Regions from separate parts of the Homo sapiens genome. Here region 1 is linked to region 2. The links come from fine-mapping of genetic effects on gene expression. A gene starts in region 2. The other region holds a variant in brackets. All regions are shown on one strand. Distances are from middle to middle. Region 1 overlaps UBE4B (ubiquitination factor E4B). Region 2 holds the start of KIF1B (kinesin family member 1B).

The links.
Region 1: its variant is fine-mapped to the expression of KIF1B in monocytes after interferon gamma (Fairfax 2014, PIP 0.91).

Annotation. Positions count from the first base shown.
Region 1 is chr1:10,168,909-10,184,261 of GRCh38, reverse strand. UBE4B (ubiquitination factor E4B) reads right to left here. Exons shown (of 28, transcript NM_001105562.3): 25 at 12,933-13,124; 26 at 5,444-5,618; 27 at 4,700-4,846; 28 at 3,023-4,367. The coding sequence ends at 4,306. Among named protein-coding and RNA genes, the nearest start is that of KIF1B, 34 kb to the left of the region's middle. RefSeq lists enhancers at 10,679-10,758, 13,669-13,718. The variant C/T (reference allele first, on the strand shown) is at 8,281.
Region 2 is chr1:10,204,294-10,219,646 of GRCh38, reverse strand. It overlaps KIF1B (kinesin family member 1B), which reads right to left and starts at 9,077. Exons shown (of 49, transcript NM_001365951.3): 1 at 8,769-9,077. RefSeq lists an enhancer at 7,289-7,944 and silencers at 8,846-9,365, 9,396-9,475, 9,562-9,856.

The DNA.
Region 1 (15,353 bases), 35 kb after region 2:
GACATAGGAGGAGAGCACAACAGCGGAGTCAAGGATGACTCGAAGGTTTGTGGCCTGAGCGACTTGGAAGGATGGAGTTGTCATTTACTGTGATGAGGAGACTAAGAGGAGCGGGCGTGGGGTGAAATGTACAGAGTTCAGGTTGGGATATGTTAAGTCTGAGGACCTTTTAGTCATCTGAGATGGCCAGTGTGTACAGTACAGGAGAGAAGTGGAGGTTTGAGATATACATCTGGGGTCAACGTGAGTGGCTAGTAACGAATGAAAGCTGTGATATTGAAGTTATCTAATTGTTTAAAATGGGGGTTAGGTCTAGAGCTGATCTCAAGGCCAAAGTCCCTTCCAAAATGCTATGCTGCTTCTCCTTGGGCATTCTGAGCTATTCTGAACTTCTAGCATTCTGGAACTCTGCCATACAGCAGGAGTCGGGAAGAGATGAGGCTGGAAAGGCCAGATGGCCTAGATTCATGTGCCAGTTCCACTACATTATGGTTGTGGAGGGTTAAATTAATTAATATATGTGGCCGGGTGCGGTGGCTCTTGTCTGTAATCCCAGCACTTTGGGAGGCCAAGGCAGGTGGATCACGAGGTCAGGAGATCGAGACCACCCTGGCTAACACGGTGAAACCCTGTCTCTACTAAAAATACAAAAAATTAGCTGGGCATGGTGGCGGACACCTGTAGTCCCAGCTACTCGGGAGGCTGAGGCAGGAGAATGGCGTGAACTTGGGAGGCGGAGCTTGCAGTGAGCCGAGATCGCGCCACTGCACTCCAGCCTGGGCGACAGAGCGAGACTCTGTCTCAAAAAAAAAAAAAAAATTAATACATGTAAGAGTGGCTTGCACATAGAATATGCTCATGAAATGCAAATGATCATCACCAATTCAGAATGACTTTCTTCACCAACACTATCTGACACCAGCATCAAGCTCATAGGCTACTGTGTCTCCTTCAATCAAAAACGTACCTTGAGGCCTGGTGTGGTGGCTCATGCCTGTAATCCCAGCACTTCGGGAGGCTGAGGCAGGTGGATCACTTGAGGTCTGGAGTTCAAGACCAGCCTGGCCAACATGGTGAAACCCCATCTCTACTAAAAAAAAAAAAAAAAAAAAAAAAAAATTAGCTGGACATGGTGGCATGTGCTCTAGTCCCAGCTACTCGGGAGGCTAAGGCAGGAGAATCACTTGAACCTGGAAGGTGGAGGTTGCAATGAGCCAAAATTGCGCCACTGCACTCCAGCCTGGGTGACGGAGCGAGACTCCGTCTGAAAAAAACCAAAAAACAAAAAAAAGTACCTACTCAAATGAGGCCTATTCATGTCACTTTAGCACTCCAATCAAATTGCTGTGAAATTCACTACTCGATGTACCAAACCCAGAGGTTACAAAAAGTGAACGGTGTGCTCAGCTTTTTTTTCAAAAGATATTCAATCAATATCTTTTTAAAATCTACACAACACTGAGTCACAACACAAGGCAGATTTTAATCATCTTTCTCTCAAGGATCATTTCTCTTCTGCCAATCTGATTCTCTTATTTGACAATCTTCCTTTTAGCCAAGACCTACTTTTAATATATTTTGGGATTTATTTCAATATCCACAATTAAGAGACTGCAGACAAACACAAAACAGCAACTCTTGAGACTCTAAAAATGGAAACCCAAATCATCTTCCCCCTATAGATAGTACAGGCAGGAGACTGACTGTGTCTCTGTCCTATCCGGCAGGTCCTTGAAACCTCTGAATTATTCAAAACGACAAGTGCATATGGCGGTATAAAGCAGCATTTTATTACATTCACGGGGACAACTGGAGGATTAAAATAAGAGTTTGGAATCTGGGATGGAGAGGAGACAAGCAGTACACACTGGTCAGATAACCACACAAACAAAATTAGGCAAGATGCCAGTCAGTATCCTAATTCTACAGGCACTAAGCTTAGATATGTAAGTTTAGTAAAAAGTAAACCCAATTAAACAGAATCTTCTGCATGGTGAGAATATGGATTTTTTTTCTTTTTGCTTATATTGCCTAAAATTTTTGCTATCATGAACTTTTTCCTTATTTATTGTGTCTATCTATCTATCTATTTTTTGAGACGAAGTCTCACTCTTGTCCCCTAGGCTGGAGTGCGATGGCGCGATCTCAGCTCACTGCAACCTCCACCTCCTGGGTTCAAGCAATTCTCCTGCCTCGGCCCCCCGAGTAGCTGGGATTATAGGCACCCACCACCACGCCCAGCTAATTTTTGTATTTTCAGTTGAGATGGGGTTTCACCATGTTGGCCAGGCTGGTCTAGAACTCCTGACCTCAGACGATACACCTGCCTTGGCCTCCCAAAGTGCTGGGATTACAGGCGTGAGCCACCGCACCTGGCCATGTTATATATATATATATAAATATATATAAATAAATATATATGTAAATATATATAAATATATATTTTTTCTTTTTTGAGACGGAGTCTCGCTGTCACCCAGGCTGGAGTGTGATGACGTCATCTCGGCTCACTGCAACCTCCACCTCCCAGGTTCAAGCAATTCTCCTGTCTCAGCCTCCCGAGTAGCTGGGACTACAGGCGCTGCCACTACGCCCGGCTAATTTTTTGTATTTTTAGTAGAGATGGGGTTTCACCATGCTGGCCAGGCTGGTCTCGAATTCCTGACGTCAGGTGATCCATCCGCCTCAGCCTCCCAAAGTGCTGGGATTACAGGCGTGAGCCACCGGGCCCGGCCTGAGGAAGAATCTTGAAGGTCAGGGAAGATACTTGAGATAAAGCAGAAGAAACTCAAGAAAGGCAGAAGACTGAATATGACAAAGCTTACCCCCTCAAATCAGCAAACAGTGAAATGAGAACCAAATGTCGAGACTGACATGAATAAGAAAGTTTTCTTTTAAAAATAGCAGCTCCTAATTGGATCCAGGAAAGATCATTCACCACATGCAAACTCACTTGGCTCTTGTTTACCCACCCGCCCTGCCCTTTTTTTTTTTCCACAAAAGAGAAGAGACTCAAAGAAGATTTCTTCTGAACGTGTGTCACCATTTATTGTAGTTTGCGTTAGGAATTGAACAGAGGACATTGTCTGTGGAGGGAAAAAAGGAAAAGAAAAAAGAAAGTATGCTTTTTATAGACTTAATTTCTTCAGAACACTTTATGGTTTCAAATCCTTTTTTTTTTTTTACCCCAAAGGAAATTTGAGAATTCAAGTATGTTAAGTAGGGAGCAGTAATACAAAAAGTCTTATACTTGTGTGCGCGTGTGGCTGTGTTTGTCTGTGTGTGTTGAAACCGGCAGACATACTCCCACATTCTTGCACCCTCTTTTGCTTTGGTAAGGCCAAACACATCACACAAATGACCCTGCCTCAAACTCACACACCCAAGGGTTGAAGAATTGATTTACCCCCAGAGGATAACTGTGAAGGTTTCAAACTGTCACGTAGCATTAAAAAAAAAACCCAACCCTCATCTCCCCAAAATATAAGTCACATAAGTCCTGATACACTTACACCCCTAGATTTTGCTGCAGCTGCTCCTCAGATGCCGAAGAGAGGCTTATCACAAGGACCAGAGCAGCAGGATTTTCTTTATTTTGTTTAGAATAAAAAAATCTTAAAGGGACATTTCAAAAGAAAAAAAAAACTGAAATTCAAATTCTGAAAATATCTTGCCTTTTTTATTAATCATGTCATCTAACACCAATTAAAAAAACAAATATGTGAATATGATATAAAAATACGATCCCAGGATTAACACTTGGTAGCAGGCACAGTTATCTCACAGAATATATGTTTGGAGGGCCAGGGAAAGGAGTTTACTTTTGTTTTTGCTTCTCTTAAAAAAATCCACAGCAGTGCAAGTAGGGTCAGGAAGGGGGAGAGGGGAAAAAAGATTCTTTAGCAGCAAAATGTCCAAGGTTCTCTAATCACAATCAAATCAACGGATATTGGATTAAAAAAAAATTCATGAAGGGATGCTGCCCAGACCCATTAGCCATCACTAAAAGACTTCCGTTGCCCCAAACTGTGACATACGAAGGACATGCTTTATTACACAAGCAACCATAAAACCTGTCCCTTAAGCTTTTGACCGTGTTTGTCACTTAAATATATGTACAGGAAGCGGGCTCCTCTTCTCATCCATGTCCTTTCAGGTCTCAGCGTTTGCTCGCTCTGGGTGGGCCTGGGGTTGGTTTGCCACATTTGGCCTCCAACACATGAACGGCAGCTTCGCTGCGGCCGCTGCTTCTGCTTGCCTCGTTGGCCTTGGCTGTGTCTAGCAGAGGGTGGGCGGCGGAACGGTTTAGTGATCGCTGTTCTGTTTCTCTCTCATCCACGCCTGAATCTGCTCTTTCAGTTCTGGCACTGAGAAAAGAAAAAAAGGAGGATTAATGCCCCAGATGGGAGGGCTCTTCCTGAGAGAGGATGCTTGTCGCTCTGTATAAATGGGAAGAAAAGGCCATTCTTTCCCTCATTGAGCCGAAGACTCCAGAAGGACTGGGACATGAGAGGGAGGGACTGGATGTCTGCAGGGAAAAAGGGCCAAGAGTGTTTTGGGTCTTTGCTACAGAGTGTCATAAAGTAGGTAGTTTCTGCATTTGATAAATTTCCCTTCTGCTTCATCTCCAATATGTGACTTGGGCTTTATCTCTTGGTACTGACGCCAGCGCTGCACCTCAAACTGCACCCTCCTCTACCTGGTTCCAGCATGCTCTCTGTCAGCGTCTGCCGGTTGAAGGGGTCCGTGGGGGAGTTGAGCAGGTGCCGCAGGATGATGGAGCGGTCCATGATGGTGCCAGAGGGCAGCCGCACGGGGTCTGTCATGAGGGTGTCCATCAGAGGGTCTGCGGGGACAAAGCAAAGCAAACTCTAATCTACTGAGAGCCCACGACTGAAAAAGAAAACAAAGCCCGTTCTACCAGCGAAAAATCTATCCAAAGGAACAGCAATCAAAGGGCCCCTGTGAGGCCCCCAGGTTTAGAAGGAAATCAGCCTTCAATAAAGGCATATACATTGCCTTTTGTAAGGGGAAGGCGCTTCTTTGTCAGCTACTGCTGGGGGGAGGGAACAGAGAAGAAAGCCTGGGACAGACCCAGCAGCAGGCCCCACAGGCTCCGTGGCGAGGACGGCAGGCTGGAATTCTTTGTCTTAGGACTTCTGGGAATTCTTTGAAAATGTGAATCCCCACTTGCAAAGGCAGCCCTGCCCTTAGAATCTTCAGGGTTGTTATCTGGCTTTAAGTCAGGCTAAGCTAAGGATGTTTCTTCCTCTCAATTTACAATATGAGCTAAAAATAGGCAAATGTAATTTAAGACAGATTGTCTCAAAAAGCAGCTCTAGCACACCATTAAAAAATTAATTGCACAGGACGTCCTCTTGTAATGTTATCGATTTCCAGTTAACTCAAAAGAAATCAGCATGAAAACGACGAGTCCACTTGCCTCTGAACTCATCAGGAGCGTCGCTGTAGTCGATTTCTGCGCGTGCGTTCTTGGCCACTATCTCCTCCACTTTCTCGGCGAGCAGCTTAAATTTTTCTATTGCTATTGTGGATTTGATCCCTGCCTTCCGCATCTTTGAAATAACTTCTTCAAACAATTCCTTACTGTAGGATCTCTGCAAAGGAGGAATGGCAATGTGAGACGTAAATGTACGTCAGGTGGAAAAAAGCGAGCTGCAGAAAATATCCAAAGTATTATCCATTTGTGGATTTTCCCCCACTAAAAAAGCCCTAAAATTATATATACACTTATATATTTTATATATCCGTCTTTATGCATTTATAGCCTCATAAAAGTATGCACTTTTTATGCTTACAAATGGATAAAGACTGGAATAATATGTGCCAAACTGTACGAGGTCACTCCCTCTGGAGAGGGCTGCAGGACTGAGGCAGACGGGCTTTTTTTTTGAATTTTTACAGCTAGCACGCATTTCTTTTAAAGTTTAAACATTAAAAAGAGAAGGAAATCTAGTCTATTTCAGTCCTTGGGGGGCACTGTGCCCTGGCAGCCTATAAGAAAGAAGAGGTGAAAATTTCAGCTCTCTTCCACAAAGGTAAGCATGGTAAAAACAATCCACTATTGTTCATACTCTAGAGGAGCCTTCTCCTGTTCACTTTCAAGCTTCTTCAAGCTCATTTAGTTCAGCACTAGCACATGTCAGGGGCTCCATGGACGTTAGACCACCCTGGTGAACTGATGAATAGGCCTGGGAACAGACACGATTTATGTCCCCAGGAAGGGAAGTTGTGGAGTGGAGGTCAGGCGCCCACCGTGGACCCAGACAAATCTGAACTTGAATTCTGGCTCTACCACCTACCAGCTGTGCAGTCGTAGGCAAATCTGAACCCTCCTAAGCCCAGGTTCTTTGAGTGTAAAATGGGCAGAGTAACATCTACCTCACAGGTGCCTAATTCATAAAAATCACTGCCATGCCAAACAGTAAAGTATGCTGTAGTTTGTATTTATAGTAAAACATATATGGCAAAAACACTGGCCACTTGCTTAGTGATGATATATATTTGTATTTGTATCACCATCGCAAAACAAGTGGCCAGTGTTTTTGCCATATATGTTTTACTATAAATATATATATATATTTTGAGACAGAGTCTCATTCTGTCACTCAGGCTGGAGTGCAGTGGTGCAATCATGGCTCACTGCAGCCTCAAACTCCTGGGCTCAAGCAATCCTCTCACCTTAGCCACCCAAGTAGCTGGGACTACAGGTGCATGCCACTATGCCCAGTTAATTTTAATTTTAATTTTTGAGACGGAGTCTCGCTTTGTCACCCAGGCTGGAGTGCAGAGGCACGCTCTCGGCTCACTGAAGCCTCCACCTCCTGAGTAGCTGGGATTTCAGGTGTGCGCCACCACGGCTGGCTAATTTTTTTGTATTTTTAGTAGAGACAGGGTTTTGCCATGTTGGCCAGGCTGGTCTCGATCTCCTGACCTCAAGTGATCTGCCCACCTTGGCCTCCCAAAGTGGTGGGATTACAGGCGTGAGCCACTGTGCTCGGCCTAAACCTCTTTTCTTCATAAAGTACCTAGCCTTGGGTATTTCTGTATAGTGATGCAATGGACTAACACAAGAATATCTGCAAATCATATATCCAATGATACATGTATCATCTGATATGACCTAGCATCCAGAATACATAAAGAACTCTTCTGGTTGGGCGCGGTGGCTCACGCCTGTAATCCCAGCACTTTGGGAGGCCAAGGCAGGCAGATCATGAGGTCAGGAGATCGAGACCATCCTGGCTAACATGGTGAAACCCCGTCTCTACTAAAAATACAAAAAAAATTAGCCAGGCGTGATGGTGCACGCCTGTAGTCCCAGCTATTTGGGAGGCTGAGGCAAGAGAATTGCTTGAATCTGGGAGGTGGAGGTTGCAGTAGGCTGAGATCGCACCACTGCACTCCAGCCTGGGCAACAGAGGGAGACTCCATCTCAAAAAAAAAAAAAAAAAAAGAAAAAGAAAAAAAGAACTCTTCCAACTCAACAACAAAAACACAAACAACCCAATTAAAAAATGGGCAAAGAACATGAATAGACATTGCTCCCAAGAAAATATAAAAATGGCCAGCAAGCACATGAAAAGGTGTCCAATGGTATTTGACATTAGGGAAATACAAATCAAAACCGCAATGAAATACCACGTCACTCCCACTAGGATGAGTATTTAAGAAACAAAAACAAATTAACATGTTTAATTTTTAAACTTCATGATGGAAAGAATATAAACTAAACCAAAGAAAAAAAATGAAAAAGAATGGAAACTTAAACCTTATACATTGCCAGTGGGAATGTCAAATGGGCGGCAGCTGTAGAAAACATTCTGGCATCCCTCAAAAAGTTAAACATGGAATTACCACATGACCAACAATCCCACTCCCAAGTGTAGACCCAAAGTAACTGAAAACAGGTGTTTAAATACTTTTACACAAATGTTCATAGCAGCACTATTTGCAAGAGCCAAAGGCTGGAGACAACCCAAATGTCTATCAATGGATGAGGATAAACAAATGGTGGTATATCCATACAATGAAATATTATTCAGCCTTAAAAAGGAATGAAATACTGATACATTCTACAACACAAATGAACCTTGAAACATGATGCTAAGTGAAGGAAGCCAGACATAGAAGGTTACACACTGTATAAGTCCGTTTATATGAAATATCCCGGAGAGGTGAATAGGTAAATCCAAAAATAGGAAAAGAGAGACAGCAGATTTGTGGTTGCCAGGGGCTGGGGCAAGGGGGTCTAGACAG[C/T]GACTGCTTTAAGGGTTTTCCTTTTGGGGTGATACATGTAGTGGAACTAGGTAGAGGTGGTGGCTGTGCAACGCTGTGACTGTACTACATGCCACAAAATGGTACACTTTTAAATGGTTACTTCTACGTTATATATTAATCTTACCTCATTAAAGAAGAAAAAAATAACAAGAAAATGAAGCATTACATTTGTGAGACGCAGACTCATATTCTGGTAGGTTAGAGGAGGGAGCAATTACTTAGGAAAGACTGACTGCATGGGGGAAGTGTGACTGATGGGATTTTTATTTTTTTTATTTTCTTTTTTATTTATTTATTTATTTATTTATTTGAGACGGAGTCTCGCTCTGTCGCCCAGGCTGGAGTGCAGTGGCGCGATCTCGGCTCACTGCAAGCTCCACCTCCCAGGTTCACGCCATTCTCCTGCCTCAGCCTCCCGAGTAGCTGGGTCTACGGGCGCCCGCCACCACGCCTGGCTAATTTTTTGTATTTTTAGTAGAGATGGGGTTTCACCGTGTTAGCCAGGACGGTCTCGATCTCCTGACCTTGTGATCCGCCCGCCTTGGCCTCCCAAAGTGCTGGGATTACAGGCGTGAGCCACTGCACCCGGCTATTTTTTTTTATTTTCTAAGTAGGTGCTGAATTTTTTTTCTTTTTTAATGGAAAATGGTGTTAACAGACAATGCTTCATGGACGACAGATATGCAGTCTGTCCATGGAACTGGCGTCTGCCCATAAAGACACAGTCTAGGCCACTTTAACATCTCCCTATCCTGGTCCTCTTGGCTCCCAGGACCAATGTGGTATCCCACTTCTCTGGCATGGAGCTCTGCCCTCAGATTCCTGAGCATCAAGCTCAGTGGCTCTTCACCCAGGCACCTTTCTGTCAGCCTTCTGGACATGGGTCTTCAGCCTACTCTTGGTATAGAGGGAGAGAAGCCTCTCAGTTTCTTTACCTGCAAAGCTGTCATTTTCCTCTTCCTTTGTCTTTCCCGGAAAACAAGACATACCAAACCAAACTAAGACATACCAAAGCAAACTAAGATACTGCTGCTTCCAAAGAAGAAAATGCAATTTTACAACCTCTTCCCCAGTGCTTGCCAACCATCCATCCTTCTGCACTTACCGCCCCCTGCCCCACCAAAGCTCTCTTCTAAAACAATCAAGTAAGCAGGCCCCTAATCAGCTTATGGCCAATATAAATAGAAAATACCCAACAATCAGCACACACACCACACTGTGAAAGGAAGCAAAAACACTTTTTTTTTTTTTTTTTTTTGAGACGGAGTTTCGCTCTTGTTGCCCAAGCTGGAGTGCAATGGCACGATCTCGGCTCACTGCAACCTCCACCTCCCAGGTTCAAGCGATTCTCCTGCCTCAGCCTCCCGAGTAGCTGGGATTACAGGCGCACACCACCATGCCCGGCTAATTTTTTGTATTTTTAGTAGAAACAGGGTTTCACCATGTTAGCCAGGCTGGTCTCAAACTCCTGACCTCAGGTGATCTGCCCGCCTCGGCTCCCCAAAGTGCTGGGATTACAGGTGTGAGCCACCGCACCCAGCCCAATACTTCTTCTTTTTTTTTTTTTTGATATGGAGTCTTGCTCTGTCACCCAGGCTGGAATGCAGCGGTGCGATCTCAGCTCACTGCAACCTCTGCCTCCCGGGTTCAAGCTATTCTCCTGCCTCAGCCTCCGAGTAGCTGGAATTACAGCCGCCTTCCACTGTGCCCGGCTAATTTTTGTATTTTTAGTAGAGATGGGGTTTCATCATCTTGGCCAGGCTGGTCTCGAACTCCTGACCTCATGATCCACCCACCTTGGCCTCCCAAAGTGCTGGGATTACAGGTGTCAGCCACTGCGCCCAGCCCCAACACTTCTTAAAATATGCTTTTCTCTCCATGTGTCACTGGCACATGTGTGTTTGTTTCACCACTCTGGAAGAACAGGACTATTTAGACATTCAAGGAGCCCCGTGTGTCACTGTGCCAGAAACTGCTGTCTACAACCCAAGCCAGGTGCCACCAGAGGCCACCACCATAATCTAAGGCATGACCAGGCAATGCAATGTGTGGTTGGTCACCAAACAAAGGCCGCTCAAAGCATTCCTTTGTCACCCAGTTGCTTTGCATCACCTCACTGGGCGTGCTGTGCCCACCCACACCGAAACCTTCTGTGTGTTACGTTAAGCGCCTGTGATGTGGCAGCCACAGCACAACCACCCTGGAGAGGGCGCACACTAAACAGCTCTTCCAAGTCTCTCTACGGCAACGATGGAAGAGCCCTGGGGCTTTCCACACCGACCTCTGGCTGGGCTGGAGACGCCAGCTACAGTCAGGTGTGGACCCCACCTCAATGGGTAAGTGCTTCCCTTTTCTTTCCCTCACTGCAGGCTATGACTTGCTTTCTGTTTCTAAATCAGTGCAGTATTATATAGTCGGGGGCTAGTAAAGCAGTGTTTGTGTGTGTGTGTGTATATATATATATAATTTTTTTTTTTTTTTGAGACAGTCTTGCTCTGTCGCCCAGGCTGGAGTGCAGTGGCTCGATCTCCGCTCACTGCAAGCTCTGCCTCCTGGGTTCACGCCATTCTCCTGCCTCAGCCTCCCGAGTAGCTGGGACTACAGGCGCCCGCCACCACGCCCGGCTAATTTTTTTGTATTTTTTTTAGTAGAGACGGGGTTTCACCGTGTTAGCCAGGATGGTCGTGATCTCCTGACCTTGTGATCCACCCGCCTCGGCCTCCCAAAGTGCTGGGATTACAGGCATGAGCCACCGCGCTCGGCCAGCAGTATATATTTTAACATCTACAAGTAACTAAAATTTCCTAACCCTCTTACGAGCCACTACTTTGTATGATAAAACTGCTTTAGACACACAGTCATGTGTCGCTCTGAGAAATGTCTTGTTAGGCAATTTCGTTGCTGTGTAAACATCATAGAATTTACTTACACAAACCTAGATGGCGTGGCCTACACCACGTCGAGGCTCTATGGTATAGCCTATTGCTCCTAGGCTACAAAACTGTACAGTGTGGGACTGTACTGAATCCTGTCGGCAGTTGTAACACAATGGTGAGTATTCTAAACACAGAAAAGGTACAGTGAAAATACGGTATTATAATATGATGGGGCCACATGGTCTTTGTGGTCCAGCATCGACAGAAACAGCACATGACTATGTATTTTTTCACTGCAAATCCTTTGTTAAGACCACTTCCCCTGCTACATCAGAAAGCACCTACATATGTGAGTTATAGCTCAATAAAGCTGTCATTAAAAAAAAGTACCTACAATGCTTCTATTGTAATATTACTCCTTTGGATGAGATATGGGTAAAGAACCTTCTAGAATGCCTACTGATGATTAACTTGAGCCATGAATAGTATTTGGATAAGTAGTGTGAACAAAGACAGAGACACAGAGACAAGCATGGTTCTTTGTGGGCATTTTAAGTGGACAGCAGAGAGACTGAGGATATGGGTTCAAGGCCAGGCTGCCTGGACATGGATCATGCCTCTGTCCCACACTAACTCTGTGACCTCGAGCAAGCTATTTAACCTCTCTGTGCCTCTTTCCTCACTTTAAAACAAAGACTTTACAGAACCTACCTCAAAGGATTTTGTGAGGACTAAATGGGTGGAGATACGAAAAGTGGGTGAAATGAGGTGTACAGTTAATAAACATTAGCTGTGAGGACGTTGAAAATGAGGCAGAACGGACCATGGAGGGGGCCAGCCCTTTATGGGATGACTAGAAGATCACGCAGGGACAGCTTAGCCTAAATCGGTGGCTGTGGAAATGAAGCACACACAGACAGATCTGCTCACAGGAGACCCACGGAATAAAGGAGAGGGAAGAATGTAAAGAAAACCACACAAGATTTTTAATCTGGACAACCCCAAAAATAACAGCACTCTAGCAGGAGACTAGGAAAGAAGATTCTGATCCCTTGAGAAACCGGGCTCTTTTCAGAAATGTAATGGATTTGTCAAGAAGGCCCTTAAAAAGATGGGGTAAGAACTCAACTGGAGAGGGCTCAGAGCGCCAAACCTGCTCTTTACTTTTGTTTTTTACTTACTTACTTACTTATTTATTTATTTTGAGACAGAGTCTCACCCTGTTGCCCAGGCTGGAGTGCAGTGGCACAATCTCAGCTCACTGAAACCTCTGCCTCCTGGGTTCAAGCGATTCTCCTGCCTCAGCCTCCCGAGTAGCTGTGATTACAGGCATGCACCACCACACTGAGGTAATTTTTTGTATCTTTAGTAGAGATGGGGTTTCACCATGTTAGCCAGGCTGGTCTCAAACTCCTGACCTCTTGATCTGCCCGCCTCGACCTCCCAAAGTGTTGGGATTACAGGCGTGAGCCACCGTGTTTTTGAGACAGGATCTCACTCTCTCACCCATTCTGGAGTGTGGTGGTGCAATCACGGCTCACTGCAGTCTGGCCTCAAGCAATCCCCCTGCCTTGGCCTCCCAGAATGTTGGGATTACAGGCCTGAGCCACCGCGCCCAGCCCAAATCTGCTCTTCACACTCAAAGGAAAACAACCCACTCATCTTCATTTACACCAGACGAGTTCCCTGGCCACTGTGGTTATTATCTCCAAATCTGCCAGTAAACTCACAGAGAGACCAACTCAACTCACTGACCTGGTCGTCAGCAATGGCTTTCGCGAACCGAGCACAGTCCAGCTGTAAGTAAATATCCGTCAGTTGGTCCAACAGCTTCTTTGGTTCAAAGCCGTATTTCTCAGGGTTTTCAACTTTCAGGTCACGGCACTTGGGGCCACAAAGTTGCTGAAGATTAAAGTTCAGCATTGCAGCCAATCGGGGTCCAAGCTCCTAGGAAATCACAGGATAATAGGACAATTCATGCTGTTGAGACAAGTGAAAAGGACCAAAAACTCCCATTTCAGTGGAGGAACAGGAATTGGTTGGATTAATCTTCAAAGAATCCTTACAGGTGCTGTGTATCATAAGCTGAAGAAAGACAACATTATATTTCAACTTTACTCCCCATTTCTGATCTGATAATTCTAATACTTAATGGAATGTTGCAGGCTGATGAAATATTTATTTATAAATACCAAAAGAAGCCAAACTTTTCTTTACATTTATGCTTTTAATTAAAAAAAGTATCACTCCAAATTCATTGAGAAACAAGTAAAAGAGAGAAAATTATACAAATCTTACCATTATCTGAGCAAAAAAAGTTTTGAGTCAGCTCTTCCAGCCAGTATTTCATAAACTTTTTTCCCCATAAATGTTAAAAGCCCCTGGCAGTTCAGTCTGTGTCATTCTTATGTACTTATCAGATACAAATAACAAAGTAATGCAAGGAAAGAAGATAAAAGTTATGCCTTGAATAGTTTTAAATCTAGTCAATGAGACAGAGTAAACTTAAATGAAACACCTGGAAAATAGTAATAATCTATGCTGTAATCTCACAAGGTGACTCAGTACCCACTACGGTTGGGCATACATGGTTTTAAGCAAACCTGAAACAGGAAGATGTGGCTTAGAGAGCATTAAACACTGGCCATAAAAGGGAGTCACGAAAGCATTCCTTTAAGTCACAAGGTTTTCATGAAATGTAATAACTGGATTTATACAAATTCAACATATACTTAGCTTTTCAAGAATTTGCTTTTGCACAGAGTACTCCTGTATTTCACTGTTGAGAAGCTGTGAAATAAAAGAGTCATAACAGGACAGAGTTGGTCATTCTGTTTGAAGTAGGAGAGATCTGAGCTAGTCAGTAAAGAAGGTGAAAATGCAAACCTTAAAGGTTTGCAAAATGAAATGCCTTTACACTTTGTCTGCAAAGGCCAGATAGTAAATAGTGTAGCAAAGGAAATGAAAACATCACAGCAGGCACAGGCACAGGCTGGGGCCAAAAGAACAGGGCTACAGTGTACAGATGGCTCAGGTCTATGAGCAGGCCTTAAAATAAATTTATTTATTTATTTTTGAGAAGAGTCTTGCTCTGTTACCCAGGTTGGAGTGGCGTGATCTCGGCTCACTGCGACCTCTGCCTTTTGGGTTCAAGTGATTCTCCTGCCACAGCTTCCCAAGTAGCTGGGATTACAGGCATGCACTACCACGCCTGGCTAATTTTTGTATTTTTAGTAGAGACGGGGTTTCGCCATGTTGGCCAGGCTGGTCTGGAACTCCTGACCTCAGGTGATCCACCCTTCTTGGCCTCTCAAAGTGCTGGGATTACAGGCATGAGCCACCGTGCTTGGCCTTATGCCAGGTACTTCTATGTGTGTTTTCGCTTAGTCTTCCCAACAAGTGTACAAAATAGGTGGGTGTTGACCTTGTTACAAAGGAATTAATCAACTATTTACTATCTGGCCTTCACAGAATTCTGCAAACCTTGAAGGGAGGCCAGTGTCTGGCCAGTGAGCTGTTTTGTTTCATGCTCCATGGCCTTGCACTTTGCAAACTTTTAAGGGAGGCCAGTGTCTGAGCTGTTTTGTTTCGTGTTCCATGGCTCTTGCACTGAAATCTGTTTATGAAGAGACATGAGGTGGAAAGTTAAAAGAGTGGAAAAGAGTTGTCCCCAGGCCAGGGAGTGGCAATAGTGCCTCTGCTGATGACAGGAGTCACATAACAGAGAGTCACATAACGAAGGTAAGAGCAAATACAGAAAATCAGGGGAAATATGCAGTAACGTCATATTCCATTGTAAAGTAAACATGTCTCCACATAGGCAAATGGCTACCGAATCTTAGGTCCCCGTCTTGCCTTCCTCACTACCCTTGTCCTGGCCACACCATAAAACTTTTCAACTTTGTGGTGGGGGTGGCTGAAGCAGGGCAGAAATCTTCAGTGATGCTGCTCAGTTTCAATTTTAGAAATAGGAACCAGGTCTTACTAGTTGAGAACAAACATTCTGACTATTTGCAATCCACCATAAACCCTAGTGATGGCCGGCTCCCATTAACCTTTGGCTTCCTGAGTGTAACAAAGGTACAGCTAAGAGAGCCAAAGATTTTACACGGTCTCAATTATTCTACTTAATATCCTTCCATTGTCAACAGCTGTTACCTTATGCTTTTTCTTCTT
Region 2 (15,353 bases):
AGCTGGGATTACAGGCATGCACCACCACACTCAGCTGATTTTTTTGTATTTTTAGTAGAGATGGGGTTCTCCATGTTGGTCAGGCTAGTCTCAAACTCCCGACCTCAGGTGATCCGCCTGCCTCGGCCTCCCGAAGTGCTGGGATTACAGGCGTGAGCCATAAGGCCTGGCCTATTTTTTACTTTTAAGATGGAGTTTTGCTCTTGTTGCCCAAGCTGGAGTGCAATGGCATGATCTCGGCTCACTGCAACCTCCGCCTCCCAGGTTCAAGTGATTCTCTTGCCTCAGTCTCCCAAGTAGCTGGGATTACAGGCATGCACCACCATGCCCGGCTAAATTTGTATTTTTAGTAGAGATGGGGTTTCTCCATGTTGGTTAGGCTGGTCTCAAACTCCCAACCTCAGTGATGCACCAGCCTCGGCCTCCCAAAGTGCTGGGATTACAGGCATGAGCCACCGCGCCCGGCCGTACGTATCTTTATATCAGGATGTTTATAACAATTTTCTCTTAGAACATCTTTAGAATTTAATACTAGGAAAAAAGGTTTCTCTCGACAAACTATTAGGCTTTCTTTTACCAGAGTGAAAATTGTACAATTTATCTTTCCCTTTTTGCATTAAATTCCATGTTTCCAAATTAAATTACAATAACCACATTAGCCGAGGCAACCTATACATTTAGTTTTTCTTGTTACATAAATTTTTACTTATTTATATTTTAATAGCTTCACTGTATATATTTGTGGTAAGCTGCTCAAATCCTTTCTAGAAGTAGTAACTGGTATAAATTATAAATAAATAAAAACTTCCTGTAATAGCCTATTCTGCTATTTAACACTGTAAATATGTTGTGTAGTCAAAGTTCTAGTTCCTAAAAACAAATAAAACCAAACGACACAGCAAGCTTTTAAAAGTTACATAAAGATCGGCTGGGCATCGTGGCTCACGCGTATAATCCCAACACTTTGGGAGGCCAAGGCGGGTGGATCACTTGAGGTCAGGAGTTCAAGACCAGCCTGGCCAACATGATGAAACGCTGTCTCTACTAAAAATACAAAAATTAGCTGGGTGTGATGGCACATGACTGTAATCCCAGCTACTCGGGAGGCTGAGGCAGGAGAATCACTTGAACCCGGGAGATGAAGGTTGCAGTGAGCCAAGGTCACACCACTGCACTCTAGCCTGGATGACAGAGCGAGACTCTGTCTCAAAAAAAAAAAAAGTTGCACAAAGATTTATGTTGAATGAATTTAATAGCCATGTGAGTAGCCAGAAAAACAGCAGTTTCAGAAGACTGAAACCAGCCCACAAACAGAAGTAGCCAAAAGTTCAAGGAAGAAAAAAACAAAATGAGTAACATACTTAGTACTGCAAAAGTGTGAAGTGTGCCTCCTGGTTTCAGCAATAAAGGCTGGAAACCACAGCAAGGGCAGTATCCATGAAGTGGGGGGCAGGAGGGGACACTGAAGCCAGCCTGTAGTGGGTTGGCACGGAAGTGGGAAATGCCAGTATCCATGACACTGTCAGAGCCTGGCTATGATGAGCAGGAGAGAGCAAATAGGAATGAAGGATTTTATTGGAAGGAACAGAAACGAAGGAGGGATTTTCCTCCCCCCAGCCCTTTATTTGTAATAGGAAAGACTTGCACATTTCTATACTTTATTCAATAGCTATTTACTGGGTGCCTACAATGCAACAGGCAGTTCCTGGGAAAAATAATCCGTGAACAAAAAAGATAAACAAACCTCCTTGTCATGGAGGAATTTACATTCTAGTAGGGAGAGGGAGGACATTAAAATTAATAAATCAGGTATAGAGAATCGAGAATGTAATCAGCATCACGGGGGAGTACAGCAAAGTCAGGGGGTTCAAGATTGTGGTGGTGGGAAGGATTGCTGTGCAGGTGCATAAATGAGGTCAGGGTGGGCCTGCTGATGTGCTGAGATTTAAGCAAAGACTTGAAAGAGGTAAAGGAGTTAGCCAAGCAGATTTCAGGGGAAAAGTATTCCAGGCAGAAGAAAGAGTAAGAGCAGCTGGGTGCGGTGGCTCACGCCTGTAACCTCAGCACTCTGGGAGGCTGAGGCAGGTGGATCACCTGAGGCCAGAAGTTCAAGACCAGCCTGGCCAACATGGTGAAACACCGTCTCTACTAAAAATACAAAATTAGCTGGGCTTGGTGGTGGGTGCCTATAATCCCAGCTGCTCAGGTGGCCGAGGCAGGAGAATTGCTTGAACCCAGGAGATTGTGCCTCTGCACCCCAGCCTGGGAGACACAGCAAGGCTGTCTCAAAAAAAAAAAAAAAAGAAAAAGAAAGAGTAAGAGCAAGTGCCCTATGGTAGGACTATGCCTGGTGTGTTCAAGAACAGTAGAAAAGGCTGGGCACAATGGGTCACGCCCGTAATCCCAACATTTTGGAAGGCAGAGGCGGGCGGATCACCTGAGGTCAGGAGTTTGAGACCAGCCTGGCCAACACGGTGAAACCCCATCTCTACTAAAAATACAAAAATTAGCTGGGCGTGGTGGCACACGTTTGTAATCCCAGCTACTTGGGAGGCTGAGGCAGGAGAATCACTTGAATCCGGGAGGCAGAGGTTGTAGTGAGCCAAGATCAGGCCACTGCACTCCAGTCTTGGTGACAGAACAAGACTCTGTCTCAAAAAAAAAAAAAAAAAAAAAAAAAAAAAAAAAAGAAAATGGGCAAGTACTGCAGGGAAAAGAAGAGTAACCAATACTGCGAGTTCCTACAGATTAGAACAGTGCTATCCCTAACAGAGGCCAAGACAGAGTAACCTCTTTCTCACACTGGGGGAAAGAACAGAAGAAAGAGGGCAGAGAAGTTTGTAAGTAGAGGAAGGGAAAGCTCAGGGAGTTCATGCCCTTTTTTCCTATGAGGTGGCAGGCAAGGTATTCTGCCAAGCATGGGGCAGTGACAGGTTTGAGTCAAGGGGTCCAGATTTTATAATAGCAACTGTGGAGAAATGGGGAGGGAGCTAAGCAGAACTGCTCCGACAGGGACCAAAGACAGATTTAAGGGAGACCTCGGACTACACATTAATTGTGGCACTAATCCCCAGCACTATGCAGGTTTCTCCATGACACGGAGTAAGAATGGAGGGTATGGATGGTAGGGATGATGTGAGGCTGGCTTCTGCATAGTAAGTCCTGAAGAATAATAAGAAAGAATAAAAACTGCAAGCAATGCAACCCAGAGGTCGTAGTATAGAAAAGGAAGGAAAAGAAGTAAAATCTGGAAGAGGCCGACGGTTTAGGAGACTTAGAGTGGGAGAACACACATAAAGTGATTATGAAAGTGAAAGCTATCAATTATCACAGTTTAAGACTTGAAGGTGAATTTGAGACCTTAACATGATGACAAGTTAAAAATGTGGCCATAACACTAAACAACTGGAACAGAATGAAGCCAATGTTTGCTTGAGCTCAATTCAAGAAATTTCACAGTTAACGGTAGTTACAAAGGAAACTCAGCATAGTGGTTACTTACTAGTACTTATGATTTTGGGGAAGTCACTTGGCCTGTTTTAGTTTCATCTGTAAAATGGGAATAACAGTATTTATTTCATATGGCTGCTATTAGGGTTAAATTAGTTAATAAACGTAAAGTGCTTAGAAAAAAGCCTGGCACACAGAAAGTGCTCAATATGAATAAGCTATTTTATCACTATTGTTGTTTCTGTTATTGTTTATTTACATAGTCATTGACATCTGCCAAGATGATGTCAAAAATCTGGATGAAAGAGAGAACTAAGCCAACAATATAGTAATCCAAAAGAGCAATGGGGCTGGGCACAGGGGCTCATGCCTTTAATCCTCCCACTTTGGAAGACTGAGGTGGATCACTTGAGCTCAGGAGTTCAAGACCAGGCTGGGCAATAGGCAATATAGTGAGACCTCCATCTCTACAAAAATTTAAAAATTAGCTGGGCATGGTAGCGCATGCCTGTGATCCCAGCTACTCAGGAGACTGAGATAGGAGGACCACTTGAGCCCAGGAGGTCAAGGCTGCAGTGAGCCATGACTGCGCCACTGCACTCCAGCCTGGGCAATAGAGTAAGAGCCTGTCTCAAGGGGAAAAAAACGGGCAATGGTAGAGGGTAGTATGGTTGAATGATATGCTTTGGTATAAACAATGTGATATTAAATACAAAAAATAGGCCGGGCACAGTGGCTCATGCCTGTAATCCCAGCACTTTGGGAGGCCAAGGTGGGTGGATCACCTGAGGTCGGGAGTTCGAGACCAGCCTGACCAACATGGAGAAACCCCTACTTTACTAAAAATACAAAATTAGCTGGGCGTGGTGGCACAGGCCTGTAATCCCAGCTACTAGGGAGGCTGAGGCAGGAGAACCGCTTGAACCTGGGAGGTGGAGGTTACGGTGAGCCGAGATCGCGCCGTTGCACTCCAGCCTGGGCAACAAGAGTGAAACTCCGTCTCAAAAAAAAAAAAAAAAAAAAATATATATATATATATATATATATATATATATATAAAATATATAAATTTTTAAATCCATCAAACATTTACAAGCTTGTGACTTCAAACACTATACAAAAAACCACAAGACAAATGTAAAAGTACCAATTGAGTATTAGATAATAAGTACAGTATTATGTACATACAACATTACAAAGAATTTTGAAAATGCTCTGACTGGAAATCACGGAAACCATATCAGGATACTAAATTGTACTAAAATGAAAAGGAGTTGGAGTTAACTTTATCTCACCATTTCTATATAGAAATGGTAGCCCAGGTGCAGTAGCTCATGCCTGTAATCCCAACACTTTGGGAGGCTGAGGTGGGTGGATCACAAGGTCAGGAGTTCGAGATCAGCCTGGCCAATACGGTGAAACCCCGTCTCTACTAAAAATACAAAAATTAGCTGGGCATGGTGGTGTGCACCTGTAGTCCCAGCTGCTCGGGAGGCTGAGGCAGGAGAATCACTTGAACCCAGGAGGTGGAGGTTGCAGTGAGCCAAGATCACACCACTACACTCCAGCCTGAGTGACAGAGTAAGACTCCATCCCAAAAAAAAAAAAGGGCAGGGCACGGTGGCTCATGCCTGTAATCCCAGCACTTTGGGAGGCCAAGGCAGGCGGATCAGAAGGTCAGGAGTTCGAGACCTGCCTGGCCAACATGGTGAAACCCCATCTCTACTAAAAATACAAAAATTAGCTGGGCATGGTGGCAGGTGCCTGTAATCCCAGCTACTTGGGAGGCTGAGGCAGGAGAATCATTTGAACCCGGGAGGCGGAGGTTGCAGTGAGCTGAGATCACACCAATGCACTCCAGCCTGGGTGACAGGGCGAGACTCTGTCTTAAAAAAAAAAAAGAAAGAAAGAAAGAAAGAAGTGGTAAAGTGTGAGTTCCTGGAAGGTAAAGAACTAAATCTCTACATGCACCCTCAGTTAATGGGTAATGCCTATAGTAAAAGAGCATCAATGAATCAGTGGCCCGTTAACCAAACAGTTCAACTCTGAGAAGTCCAAGGCATCTTTTTATTTTTAGCAGGCAAAGTCTGAGCCCAGAGTGGAGTGCAATGGCGCTGTCTTAGCTCACTGTAATCTCAAACTCAAGCCATCCTCCCCACTCAGCCTCCGAAGCACTAGGACTACAAACACACACCACCCACATCCAGATTTTTTTTTTTTTGGTAGAGATGGGGGTCCTGCTATGTTGTCCAAGCTTGTCTCAAACTCTTGATGTGAAGCAATCCTCCCGCCTCAGCCTCCCAAAGCACTGGGATTACAGATGTGAGCCACTGCATCCGGCCCAAGGCACCTTTTGCAGGTTTTTCCTACCACAGTCACATCTGTTTAATTTCTCTTCTATCCTGACAAGCTGCACAAAAAAAGTTCAAGAAGTATGCATATTTATTCACACTGTTTCACAGAATCCAGATATTCACCAGTACCTGTTCAAACGAGGCCATCTTTCAAAGAGAAATACATGAAATAGACATAAAATAACTTCAGAGCATTATGAAATTATATCATGTTAGTTTACAAGACCAAAAGGATATGCTTCCTCCTGGAAAAGATCTACTATGATTAGCAGCCTGGGAAGGGGATTACAAACAGGAAGGCAGGGGGCCCATTGTCCTTTACTTTGTACCCAGGACAAGACCACAGTGAGAAAATGGGCTAAAAAGCTTTGGCCTTAAGAAAGACTCCGTTGGCAGACTTTCTTGGACACTTATTCCCTGCACGAAATCAAAATGGGAAAGAAGAAAGAGAGAAAAAAGGAAAAGTGCATTCATATCTGGTCTTGAAAAGGAAAAACAGTCTGTTCTAAGCCTTAAAAGCTATACTTAATTGGATAAATTTTGGAAAAACACTCATCAGAGCAGAGCTACACATACTCATAAAACCTAGCCTCTGTATCAGATTCACAATCAGGTCTGATTTTACCAAATGCTGAAATTATTTTTAATCAAAAATATTCAGATCTTTATACTAATAAAGTAACTCTAAAAATTAAAAACTTAGAAATACTTCTAACTTAGGGCATGGAATTTCAAAACAGACATTCTGTATTTCTCTCATACTAGTGTAATGCAAAAAACACTAGTTTCTGTTGAAGTTACATTTGATTCAACAAGTTTTAAAACTAAAGCTTGATGACAAAAATAACAAAAAAATAGTGTTAAGACCTTGCTTAGCAAAAGCTATCCAAATTTTTTAAATGTGTGTGTGTATATATATATATATATATATATATATATATATATATATATACACACACGCATGCACACACACACATATATATATACACATTTTTTTTTTTAGCCAGGGTCTTGCTGTTGCCCAGGCTAGCCTCAAGCAATCCTCCCACCTCAGTCTCCCAAATAGCTGGGAATACAGGCATGAGCCACCATGCCCAGGTATTTATTTATTCATTTATTTTTGTAGAGACAGAGTCCCACTCTGTTGCCCAGGGTGGTCTCGAACTCCTGAGCTCAAGGGATCCTCCTGTCTCAGCCTCCCAAAGTGTTGGGATTACAAGGCATGAGCCACCACACCCATCCCAAAATTTTTTACATAGTTCAACCTGAGAAGTTATGAGAATGTATTTATGAACAAATTGAACTTGAATGAAAGCAAAGGCCACAAAGAAGAAAGCAGGCATGCCATCTCTCCAGGTCCTGTCCACATCTAGGATATAGAAAAGAACAGATCTACAGACTCATGCTGAACCCAGTTATTGATCATCTCCAGACCTGCTTTACAATACCAACCTATGTGTAATTCTCATATTCCACCTTCAAACAATACATTAACAACACTTGCTCTATAATCCAGCAACCATATCAACTTAATCAGAAAGCACCACCTCACTTCTTAGAGGAACACAAGAACTAGATTTTGTTATGACTAAACTAAGGAGACAAAATGCCAGCCTTTAAATAAAATATCCACCATGATATCACCTCTTAAGAGTTATTCAAATCTCATCAGCACACTTTCATCAGGCTCAGACAGGCACATCATGACACAAAGCGGAATGTTCAATGGTGGCAGAACAGCTGCTCAGAGCAGTAAGAGATATGAGCAAGGGATCTGTTGACAATCTAATTTCAGCTACCTCGAGATTCCACAAAGATGACAGCCTGCGTCCTCAGAAATGCCGCCACTAGCCTCGCCCACTATCAGAATACTCTGGTTTACTTCTTCTCTGCAAGTCGAGCGACTCTGAAAATCTATCCATCCAATGCTCTACGGCTACTCGAGGCCTCCATACTGATACAGTGGCCTTAGCAATTCTCAGATCGGCCTATGCACATGTAAAGCATCAGCAGGCCTTTCACAGCCCCCGCACTGGACGCAGAAGATGAATAGAGAAACACGGAATTTCACCCCAACAAGAATGGAATCTTGAAGGCAGTTTACCTTGGAAGCTCATTTAGCAATCAAGGAAAAAAAAAAAAAGGGATCTGGAAGCTCCATTCTGGCGTTAGGGGCGGGAATGTTTTGTGTTGCATGAACAATGACTAGCTTGCTCAAGCAGCCTCCCAACCCCCACAACTTGGCTTCTGGTCTGGCCAGTCACCCTGAAAGCTGCCAGGGCTGTCACTCGGTGCCTTCCAACAACTGGACTTGGCTCCTAAAGGATTTGTCAGATCATCCTCCCAATATGGCTGCCCGAGTAATCCCAGTCGGCTGAATGCCGAGACCACACCAGCCTTCCTCACACCTGGCCAGCATCCAACAAGCCCCCTCCCTTCCTATCGCACCCCTCTTTCCAGGCCTCGAGCCCTCGGCTCCCCCAGCGCCAAGCGATGACCTTTCCTATCGCCATCTGGCAAAGGGCATAACCACATTCCCAGCCGAAGCCCGATGCCCACCACAAAGGAGGAAAGGGGAGAGGGAAAATGAGAAACGATGGCTTCAAACGAAGCACAGCCGCCCCCCGGGCTGCAACGTGCGCGGAGCCCAGGGAACGGCCAGGCAGCGGCGGGTCTGGAGAGCGCTGGGCACAGCCGGGGCCTGGCAGCGCGGGGGAAACGGAGGGCCGGTGCAGGGCACTGCGGGGGCCCCAGCCGACCGCTGGACGCCGGCCCGGGACTCGCTGCTGGCCTAGGGAGGGGTCCCCTCCCCCGAGGGCGAGGCTCCCGCACCCGGCGCCCGTCCCGCGCTACCTCCCCTCAGACCCCGCCCGGACCCCGGCCCGGCCGCTCCTCCCCGCGGAAGCGGCCCCCTCCCCAACCCCGCGACCGCGGCGCCAACCGCGGCCAGCCCCGCCGCCTTACCTCAGCCGCGCTGCAGACCGACGGGCGGACCGGGTCAACAGGAGCCGCGGCGCGCGGGGGCGCGGGGGGCCGGGCACCGACGCACCTCAGCGCGAGCAGCGGCCGCCGCGAGCCGCAGGGCGCCGCTCCGCAGCCCCATCACGCAGCAGCCCGGCACCGCATCGAGGTGGGAGGTGGGCGGTGGGCGGCGGACAGGAGTGCGCGAGTGCGGGAGGCCAGGGCGCGGCGACGGCCGGCGGTGACGGCTGCGGAGGACGGGGAGCTGCTCCGACGCGCGCGGGCGCCTCCCAGGACCGCTGCCGTCACACTGCCCCGCTTCGGCCCTCGCGAAACTCCGCCCGCAGTCGCCGGCGCGGGACACCGCCCCGAGCTGGGCCTCTGCGCGTCACCTCGTATCCGCCCCGGCGCCCGCGACGGACACGGGCTGTGACCAATCACAGCACAGAGCTCGGGGCGGCCAGCCAATCGTAGGGTGAGCCGGGGAGTGGGGCTGCTGCGGGGGGCTGCAGGAACATCGAGCGCCCCCTGGTGGCCCTCGGGCCGGCTCAACCAGGGGTGCGGGCTGGCCAAAGCCGGAGCCCGGAGTTCCCTCCCGGGTGACCCCCAAGGGCATTCGTCGGAATCAGCCGCCCCCAGCCACCCCGATAATCCGCCTTATACGGGGACAAAAGATTGACTGAGTGGAGCGGGGCGGGGCCCAGGGGTCCTGACGCCCGCAGAGGAGCTGGGATCAACATGGGAGGCGCCGAGAGTGGAATCATTGTCCGTCGGAAAACATCTCGCAGGCGGAACCGGCCGAACGCGGCGCGGTGGGAGCGGAACCCCGAGAGGGGATGAGCGCATCCCGCGGGAAGCTGCCTGGCCTATTCTTACAGAACCCGAGCAAAACACCTCCCACGCGCCACCTCGGGAGAGAAGGCGGAATGAGTAATGGAAAAGCATGACTTGGTGGGCATTCCACTTGTCTCCTTGGGAGACCGCGGAAGGGCTGTGAGGAGAGGAACAAACGCTTTGCACCGTCCCTGAGTTAACGAGCCCAGCCCCCTTCTGGGAGATGCCCTTGAAGGAGGGAGAGTGGAAGTTAGAAACCCGGAGGACACAAAAGCACGAGCAGTGATTTCTTTAAAATCAGATTTAGATTCAGCTGGAAAGAAAAATCTCACTGTTCAGAAACTGTTCAATTCAGTACTTAACAAAATATAATCTTCAGTGATAATATATTCAATTATCAGGCCCAGGCCGAGCACTATTACTTTATAAGGTTGTGAATTATTTTTATTTACTAGCAGACATTGAAAGTAAAATCACATGTCTTCCCCTGAATTAAATACAGTATTATTGTGAGTAAAAGGTATTATGTACAAGCATATGCACTAAAACATCGAAATTAATTTTCTACACTAATAATTCTGGAAAATCTCCACCACCACTCAAGTCCTCAGACTCTTCATCCGCTTTTATTGATCACGTCTCATTTTATAGAATTTAAGCTCCACCTACCTGCAAAAGGATTTGACATAGCTTACACTAAAGCATACAGCAGTGAAACCGTATAGCTTTAAAATAGGCGTAAAATTCATAATAATGAAACAAGCAAGAGACTTTTTAAAAGCTGTTTGAATGAGAGGCATGCCTAGAAAGAAAAATTTTTTTGTTTTGTTTTGAGACAGAGTTTTACTCTCGCCCAGGCTGAGCTCAGTGGCACGATGTCAAATCTCTGCAACCTCCGCCTCCCAGGTTCAAGCGATTCTCCTGCCTCAGCCTCCCGAGTAGCTGGGATTACAGGTGCCTGCCACCACGCCCGGCTAATTTTTGTATTTTTAGTAGAGACGGTGTTTCACTATGTTGGTCAGGTTGGTCTTGAACTCCTGACCTCAGGTGATCCACCTGTCTCAGCCTCTCAAAGTGCTGGGATTACAGGAATGAGCCACCGCGCCCGGCCAGAAAAACAATATTTTAAAAATCCATAGTCAAGGAAATATGTTGCCACTGAGCACAGAACTCAGCTCTTAGCTTCCTGACGGCTAAGAGTAAAATGAAACTATAGTAGGTTAATAAAGAGGAACTCATCAATTCAACAGTAGACACCACTTCATCATAGCGTGGACCTCCTTGCGTAAATACTGTGGTGAGCGCCATGGAGAGTTACGAAAACCTGGGTGGCTGTATTGCTTGAGCTCTCAATGGAGCACAATCTAAAAAGAATCTAAAACGTAGTGAAGAACCAGGCGCGGTGGCTCACGACAGTAATCCCAACACTTTGGGAGGCTGAGGCGGGTGGATCACTTGAGGTCAGGAGTTCGAGACCAGCCTGACCAACATGGCAAAACCCCATCTCTACTAAAAAATACAAAAATTAGCCAGGCGTGGTGGGCACGCCTGTAATACCAGCTACTTGGGAACCTGAGGCAGGAGAATCACTTGAACCCGGGAGGTGGACGAGGCGGCAGTTGCAGTGAGCTGAGATCCTACCACTGAACTCCAGCCTGGGAGATAGAGTGAGACTCTGTCTCAACAAAAAATAAAATAAAATTTAAAACAAAAACGTAGTGAAGAGGGTGTGATTGTGATTGGCAGGAGAAGAAGCTAGCCAAAGGGCACACAGAAGGCACAGAAGGGTCAATAAAGGCAAAGAAGGCTGCTCCAGGATCCAAGGCCAAACAGCCCACTCTGCATAAGCCTTTTGCCTCTCTGACAGATGAAGTCACACTGCCCAGCCAGTTTCTCAGATTACAAATTCTGTATAAAAGCATCTCTTTAAAATGATAAATAAATTACTAGAAAATTGAATGTAGCCATGATCTGGTAGGGCTGTCTCTGGAATGCAAGGATACGAGAACATCAGAAGTCCTAGTCACGTGGTGCACTGCCACTCTCCCATCACAATCACAATCACAATCAGGTTTCTGGATACAAAATCAATACACAAAAATCCGAAGTGTTCCTTTTTGATAGGAAGACTTTATTATTACTATTATTTTAGACAGGGTCTCACTCTGTCACCCAGGCTGGAGTGCAGTGGTGTGATCACAGCTTACTACAGCCTCAACCCTTGCCCCCTGGTTTAATCCATCCTCCCACCTCAGCCTCCTGAGTAGGTGGCACTATAGGCACACACCACCACGCCCAGCTAATTTTTCTATTTTTTGTAGAGACGGCTGGTATCCAGCTCCTGGACTCCAGTGATCCATCAACCTCAGCCTCCCAAAGTGCTGGGACTACAGGTGTGAGCCACTGAGCCTGGCCTTTATTGCTATTTTTAATGGGATCTTTTTAAAAAATCAAGTCTTCCCGGCCAGGTGCTGTGGCCCACGCCTGTAATCCCAGTACTTTGGGAGGCAGAGTAGGCTGATCGCTTGAGCCTAGGAGTTTGAGACAAGCCTAGGCAACATAACGAGACCCTATCTCTACAAAAAATACAAAAAAAAAAAAAAAAGTAGCCAGACATGGTGGTATGTACCTGTAGTCCCAGCTGCTTGGGAGGCTGAGTGGGAAGATCAATTGAGCCTGGAAGGTCAAGGCTACAGTGAGCTATGATTGCACCACAGCACTCGAGCCTCAATGACAGAGTGAGATCCTGTCTCAAAAAAAAAAAGAAAGAAAGAAAAAAAGCAATAAAAGCTATTCAATATTTAAGAATAAATGCACCTGTAATCCCAGCACTTTGGGAGGCCCAGGTGGGTGAATCACTTGAGGTAAGGAGTTCGAGACCAGCCTAGCCAACATGGTGAAACACAGTCTCTACTAAAAATACAAAAAATTAGCCAGATGTGGTGGTACATGCCTGTAATCCCAGCTACTCGGGAGGCTGAGGCAGGAGAATGGCGTGAACCCAGGAGGTGGAGCTTGCAGTGAGCCGAGATCTCACCACTGCAGTCCAGCCTGGGTGACAGAGCGAGACTCTGTCTCAAAAAAAAAAAAAAAAAGGTGCAGGATAATAGGTGCGGGACAGTGGCATTTATACATAAAGTCTGAAGTATGAATATGAGCACTATACTGTTTAGGACTAAATTTATGTATAGTCAAGTGTGAAAACATGGATGGCAATGACAATCATCAAATTCAGGATGAGATTAACCCAGGAAAGAAAGAGAGAAAAACAAAACAAACAAACAAAAAAAGGGAGGATGACATGAGGATCTGCAACTTTATGTGTAATATTTTATTTCTTGAAAAACAAAATAACAGGAAGATGGAAATGTTGAGTTGGGAGGAAAAACCAGAGAATTTATTGATTTGTCTTGAACTCCTTATTGTTATTATTATTTTTTGTTTGTTTTTTGAGATGGAGTCTCGTTCTGTCGCCCAGGCTGGAGTTCGGAGGTGCTATTTCTGCCGTTGATGATTTTCCGCCTTCCATTTTCTTCTCTGGAAATGTCTATTATTGATTGATTGATTGACCGATTAATTGATTTAGAGACAGAGTCTCCCCTTCTCACCCAGGCTGGAGTGCAGTGACTCGATCTCGGCTCACTGCAACCTCTGCCCCCCAGGTTCAAGCGGAGCGATTCTCCTGTCTCAGCCTCCCAAGTATCTGGGATTACAGGTGCCCACCGCCATGCCCAGCTAATTTTTGTGTTTTTAGTAGACACGGGGTTTCACTGTGTTGGCCAGGCTGGTCTCGAACTCCTGACCTGAGGTGATCTGCCCGCTTCGGCCTCCCAAAGTGCTGGGATTACAGGCGTGAACCACCACGCCTGGCCCTGTCATTATTATTATTGTCTTTTTTGTTTTGTTTTGTTGGGAAAGAGTCTCACTCTGATGCTCAGGCTTGAGTGCAGTAATGCGATCTCAGCTCATTGCAACCTCTGCCTCCTGAGTTCAAGCAATTTTCGTGCCTCAGCCTCCTAATGTAGCTGGGATTACAGGCATGTGCCACCACACCTGGCTAATTTTTGTAATTTTAGTAGAGATGGCCAGGCACAGTGGCTCGCGCTCGTAATCCCAGCACTTTGGGAGGCTGAGGCAAGCAGATCGCATGAGGTCAGGAGTTCAAGACCAGACTGACTAACATGGAGAAACTTCGTCTCTACTAAAAATACAAACTTAGTCGGGCATGGTGGCACATGCCTGTAATCCCAGCTGCTCGGGAAGCTGAGGCAGGAGAATCGATTGAACCCGGGAGGCAGATGCTGCAGTGAGCTGAGATCGCGCCATTGCAATCCAGCCTAGGCAACAAGAGCAAAACTCTGTCTCAAAAAAAAAAAAATTGTAGTAGAGATGGGGTTTTGCCATGTTGGCCAGGCTGGTCTTGAACTCCTAACCTCAAGGGATCCACCCACCTCGGCCTCGGCCTCCCAAAGTGCTGGAATTACATGCATGAGCCACTACGCCCAGCCTATTGTCATTATTTAATACGGTGTTTAATACAGTGTATGTGGGTGGGTATCATGTTCGTTTTTTTTTTTTTTTTGAGACAGAGTCTCACTGTGTTGCCCAGGCTGGAGTGCAGTGGCACGAGCTCAGCTCACTGCAAGCTCCCTGTCCCGGGTTCACGTGATTCTCCTGCCTCAGCCTCCCGAGTAGCTAGGATTACAGGCTCACACTACCACGTCGAGCTAATTTTTTGTGTATTTTGAGTAGAGACGGGGTTTCACTATGTTGGCCAGACTGGTCTCGAACTCCTGACCTTGCAATCTGCCCGCCTTGGCCTCCCAAAGTGCTGGGATTACAGGTGTGAGCCACTGACCAGGCCATCATGTTAGTTTTTATACTTTACTACCTGTTTAAAAAATACATATGTAATTTATTCTGGGCAAGGTGGGATGCACCTGTAGTCCCAGCTACCTGGGAGGCTGAGGTGGGTGGATCTCTTGAGCCCAGGAGCTCTAGGCTACAGTGCACTTTTATTGTACCTGTAAATAGCCACTGCACTCCAGCCCAGGCAACAGAGCAAGACCCCACCTGTAAAAAAGTAAATAACTTCATAACTTAAAAAATGATAGGTCAGGCTCAGTGGCTCACACCTGTAACCCCAGCACTTTGGGAGGCTGAGGCAGGTGGTTCACCTGAGGTCAAGAGTTTGAGACCAGCCTGACCAACATGGTGAAACCCCATCTTTACTAAAAATACAAAATTAGCCGGGCGTGGTGGCACAGTTCTATACTCCTAGCTTCTCAGGAGGCTGAGGCAAGAGAATCTCTTGAACTCAGGAGGCAGAGGTTGCAGTGAGCTGAGATCGTGCCATTGTACTCCAGCCTGGGCAACAATAGAGAAACTCCATCTCAAAAAAAAAAAAAAAAGATATTTGTCCAGAGGCATCCCAGCTGTGATGCCACCAGTAATCCTCTGCAGACTGGGTCGGCAGCTACATCAGAGGGCATGGGACCGATCCCCAGCAGCTGAGCCATGTGTGAGGAGCCGAGTGGGTGGGAGACAGCAAGCCATAATCCTCTCTCTCTGACCTGGTTTTCAGATGCCCTAGTCTCACAGCCTGCACTGTAAAAGGCCACCGCGTCTCGGCCACACATTTGGTAAATGTGTTATGGAAATCCCTTCCTGACTGAGTCCATATTCACTCAAAACTGCCACATGCCGACTCTTGCACTGACAAAAATGTGGGAAGAGCCCAATTTCATTTCTGGC